Linked DNA regions of Homo sapiens: region 1 is linked to region 2. Evidence: fine-mapped expression QTL. Tissue or cell type: whole blood. Region 2 holds a variant in brackets; the other region holds the start of a gene. All regions are shown on one strand. Distances are between the middles of the regions.

The links. PIP is the estimated chance that this variant, and not a neighbour inherited with it, causes the effect.
Region 1: it holds the start of ACTR5, and the variant in region 2 is fine-mapped to the expression of ACTR5 in whole blood (INTERVAL, PIP above 0.99).

What each region holds. Positions count from the first base shown.
Region 1 is chr20:38,747,265-38,749,935 of GRCh38, forward strand. It overlaps ACTR5 (actin related protein 5), which reads left to right and starts at 1,196. Exons shown (of 9, transcript NM_024855.4): 1 at 1,196-1,589. The coding sequence starts at 1,215. RefSeq lists silencers at 672-941, 1,242-1,431 and an enhancer at 792-1,293.
Region 2 is chr20:38,772,757-38,775,256 of GRCh38, forward strand. No RefSeq gene overlaps it. Among named protein-coding and RNA genes, the nearest start is that of ACTR5, 26 kb to the left of the region's middle. The variant A/G (reference allele first, on the strand shown) is at 1,214.

The DNA of each region.
Region 1 (2,671 bases), 25 kb before region 2:
TCTTTTGTAACTAATTTGATTTTATCTCTCAAACTGAAGTGTTATAGACCTGGTAGAGTAGATTCAAGGCAGCTGCTCTATTCTTTTTCTTCTTTCAAAATGGTTATGGCCAGCATGGGCAACATAGTGAAATCCCTTCTCTACTAAAAATATAAAAATTAGCTGGGCGTGGTGGTGCACGCCTGTAATCTCAGCTACTTAGGAGGCTGAGGCGGGAGAATCACTTGAGTCCAGGAAGTCGAGGCTGCAGTGAGCCGAGATCGCCCCACTGCACAAAAAAAGGTTGTAGTAAAACAACTGCTCTAATTCTTACCCCCTTAGCTAGTGAAAAGATGGAAATGCGACAGGATAGAGCGCGACGAGTGCTTTTAGGGCTAAAACTGAGTGGGTCACACACATGGCCTCCTCTCCCACCCGCTCCTGGCCAGAATTTAGTCACATGAGCGCATCTAGATCGCAGCCAGACGGATGGCCACGTGGGAGTGGGAGGTGATGCCACTAAAAGAGAGGGAATGCTTGGGGAACAATCAGCAGTCTTTTCTCAGGGTTTGAGAAAACACTGTGTCTTAGTGAGAAGACACAGTCTGTGCGAGTTAGTAAAGTGAACAGAACTGAGTAGTCAGCTCCCTAGTCAAGAAATTGAACAGTCGGCAGAGTTTGAGATTTCTTAACGTAAAGGAAGCGTCAAAAGATAAAGGACCCTTCTAGCCAGGACGCAAGACTGAGGGCGAGACAGCCACGCGGAGGCGGGGCCGCCGGCGGTCGAAGGTGCGCGCCCGGCCGACGGTGCGCGCCCGGCCGACGGTGCGCGCCCGGCAATGGGGCGTGGCCAGGCAGAGAGGCGGGGCTCCACCGAGCGCGGCGCTGAAGCTGGCAGCCAGAAAGGGGCGGGGCCTGGCGGCGATAGGCTTTGGGGCGGGGCTTCCAAACCGGGCGTCCCGGCTAGAGTGAAGGGGCGTGGGCACTCATAGGCTATTGGGGGAGAGGTTAAGAAACGTAGAATTTCGCAGCCAGAATGGGTACGTCTCAGCGATCCTGAAAGCAGCCTTGACAGCCAGAGGCGAGTCAAGTGGAAAGGCTGGCCGGGCTTCGAGAAGGGAGGGGGCATCGAGGTACTTAAAGGCCTGAATCGCGCGGCGTGACGTCGGGGGCGCGGTTTCGCGGCGTCTGGGCGGACACTGCGCCGAGGGGCGGGGCTGGACGCGCGCTCCAAGATGGCGGCGAACGTGTTCCCGTTCCGCGACGCCCGTGCCGCACCGGACCCAGTGCTGGAGGCCGGCCCGGTGGCACACGGGCCACTGCCGGTACCGCTGGTGCTGGACAACGGGTCGTTCCAAGTCCGCGCTGGCTGGGCGTGTCCCGGGCAGGACCCAGGTCCCGAGCCGCGCCTGCAGTTCCGCGCGGTGTGCGCCCGCGGTCGTGGCGGGGCACGGGGCGCGTCGGGCCCGCAGGTGGGGAACGCTCTGGGCAGCCTGGAGCCACTGCGCTGGATGCTGCGCTCGCCCTTCGACCGCAACGTGCCGGTCAACCTGGAGCTTCAGGAGTTGCTGCTGGACTACAGCTTCCAGCACCTGGGTGTCTCCTCACAGGTGAAGGGCGGAGTAGGCTGGGCTGGGCTGGGTTTGAGGGGAGGGGTGCGGTCTCGTCTCCGCTCACTCTGCTCTCGGAGAGGTAACAGTCACTTCAGTAGCTCCGATTGTCTTTTAGTCGACCAGATGCTAGGCGCTGTGGGTGTAGCAGCGAATAAAATGCTGCTCCTTGTATCTTGGAGCATACCTTTGGGCATATATGCTTGTTTGTTAAGAAGCCCATTTATTAACAAATACGTATTGAGCACTTACTCTGTGTCAGGCACTTTTTAGGCATTTGGAGTACATGTGTGAACACAAAACTTCCTGTGCTTATGGAGCTGTTAATACTATGGAAAGATATTCTAGTATGAAAAGGCAGACAGTAAACATAGAAATAGTAGATTCTACGCCGTGATAGGAGAGGAGGGAGTTACATTTTTTCAGTAAGATGGTCAGGGTAGGACTCGTGAAGGTGATGTTTGAGCAAGGACTTGAAGGAGGTGATTCAGGTAGCAAGCCATGTGAATATCTGAAGGAAAAACGGTCCAGGCAGAGGGAGCAGCCAGTAAAAAGGCCCCGAGGCAGGAGTGTGCCCTAATCCTAACTGCAAGGCTGCCTGTGTGAGGGGGAGAGTAGTACCTGAAAGAGGATGTCAGAGAGGTAGTGGAGAGGCAGATCACACACCTTATAGGCTTTTACTGAGTGAAATGGGGAGCCATGGCAGGGTGTTGAGCTGAAGAAGGACCTGACTTGTGTTTTAAAAGGATCACTATTACTGCTGTATGGAGAATGAATTGTCTTGGATCATAGGGTGGAAACAGGGACGAGTTAGGAGGCTGTTGGAATAACCCAGGTAAGGGATGATGGTGGCTTAGATGAGGCAGATAGCAGGGAATGTCATTAGAAGCAGTTGGATTCTGGAAATACTTTGAAGATAGAGCCAACACGATTTGCTGACAGTTTGGATGGGACCTTGACTTAATAACTTAAATTGACTCTACTTTCGTATTTTCAAGTAAAGATGAGATGGGAGTTTTATAATCGCCTCTGATCAGGTTTTTGATTAAGAAGCCAAAAGCAAATTCAGTCCTGCAATAAGG
Region 2 (2,500 bases):
TAAGACTGGAGGAGGTTTATCCTGTAGCCTGTTCAGTTTTGCCATAACCTCCCATTCCCTGTACCTTCCCAGCTGTGTCTTAAGTGGACAGATAACCCCTCACCTTCACAGAGATTGCTCGGTGAGAATTTTAACTCAAAGACAACCAATTATTGATCCCAGAAGGCCCCTGAGCTAATATTGTCACTGAATTTGTACCTTTAAATCTTATGGAGCCTCTAGCCCACCCCTCTGATGAGGCCACCTTAGAACCTGTTTGCTCATACAGTCTACCAAGGGTCATCACCTGGATCTCCAGCTCTCAAGGGCTTAGAAACTGCAGACCGGAAGGGAAGGGGCAGTGGTGATGGAGAGAGTGGAAGACCACAGCTGACCGTAAACAAAGGAAAAAGGAAAGGTTATCGCAAACCTAAATAGAAGATGCACAGGGGGAAGATACTCCATTGAAAAGAAATGAAATAAGAAAGTAATAGATAAGGAAAAGAGGCAAAGGAAATTAAACTGTAGTTGAAGAAGAAAATTTAACTATATTGAGTTTTGTGGTGGTGATGGTCAAAACAACATGACAAACTTTACCATCTTAACCATTTTTTTTTTTTTCCCGAGACAGAGCCTCACTGTGTCGCCCAGGCTGGAGTGCAGCGGTGCAATCTCAGCTCACTGCAACCTCCGCCTCCCGGGTTCAAGCAATTCTCCTGCCTCAGCCTCCCGAGTAGCTGGGACTACAGGTCTGTGCCACCAAGCCCAGCTAATTTTTTGTATTTTTAGTAGAGATGGGGTTTCCACTGTGTTAGCCAGGATGGTCTTGATCTCCTGACCTCATGATCCACCCGCCTCAGCCTCCCAAAGTGCTGGGATTGCAGGCATGAGCCACTGCGCCGGGCCCATCTTAACCGTTTTTAAGCGTCCAGAACAGGGGTGTTAACTCTGTGCACATTGTTGGTCAAAAGATCTCCAGAACTTTTTCATCTTGTAAAACCACACTCAATACCCATCAACTCCCTTCCCCCTGCCTCTGTCCATCCCCTGCTCTTTGCAACCACCATTCTACTTTGTAAGAGTTTTTCTTTAGATAACTCACATAAGAGAAGCCATACAGTATTTGTTGTTTTGTAACTGGCCTATTTCACTTAGCATAATGTCCTCAGGCTTCCTCCATGTTGTGGCATGTGTCAGAATTTCCTTCCCTTTTAAGGCTGAATAACATTCCATC[A/G]TATGGATATACCACATTTTCTTTCTTTACCTTCGATGGACATTTAGGCTGCTTCCATTTCTTGGCTATTGCAGGCAATGCTGCAATTAACATGGGAGTGCAGATATCTCTTCAGGATCCTCATTTCAATCCCTTTGGATATATACCCAGAAGTGGGACTGCTGGATCATATGGTAGTTCTATTTTTAATTTTTTGTGGAACACTCGTACTGTTTTCCATAGCAGCTGCACCATTTTCATTCCCACCATCAGTGCATGAGAGTTCCAGTTCCTCCACATCTTCACCAACTCATTATGCTGTTTTTTTTTTTTTGATAGTTTCCTCATTTACTATCTTTCATCTTTTTGATAATAACCATTCTAACTGGGGTAAGGTGATATTTCATTGTGGTTTTGATTTGCATTTCCGTGATGATTAGTGATGTGGAGCATCTCTCTGTTTGCTTATTGGCCATTTGCATGCCTTCTTTAGAGAAGTCTCTATTCATGTCATTAGCCCCTTTTTTAATTGGGTTATTTCATTTTTTGTTGAGTATAGGAGTTCTTTATATACTCTGGATATTAACCTCTTATTAGATACATGGTTTGCAAATATTTTCTCCCATTCTGTAGGTTACCTTTTCACTCTTGTTTCCTTTAATGGGCAGAAGTTAAGTTTGATATGGTCTCATTTGCCTGCTTTTGCTTTCATTGTCTGTTTTTGGTGTCATATCCAAGAAATCATTGCCAAATTCAGTGTCGTGATGCTTTTTCCCGGAGTTTTCTTCTAGGAGTTTTTCAGGTCTTATATTTAGGTTTTATCAACTACATTACGTTTTATGTTGAAGAAAAAACACTGGAATAGAATTAATGTTTAAACTGATAATAAAATTTTCTTCCCCCACAAAACAAACCACCCTGAATATAAATACTGTAAGGCCACTCTGTGTGCTTGGGAAAGTTGACTCAGAGGTGTCAGATCCTAGTGAAACGATTAGATTTTAAAGATAAAAGAAGTCCTCTCGGGCCAGGAGTGGTGGCTCATGCCTGTGATCCCAGCACTTTGGGAGGCTGAGGCAGGCAGATCACTTGAGGCCAGGAGTTTGAGACCAGCCTGGCCAACATGGCAAAGCCCCATCTCTACTAAAAATACAAAACTTAGCTGGGCTTGGTGGTGCACACTTGTAATCCCAGCTACTTGGGAGGCTGAGCCATGAGAATTGCTTGAACCCAAGAGGCCAGGGTTGCAGTGAGCCAAGATCGCACCACTGCACTCCAGCCTGGGCAACAGAGCAAGACTGTCTCAAA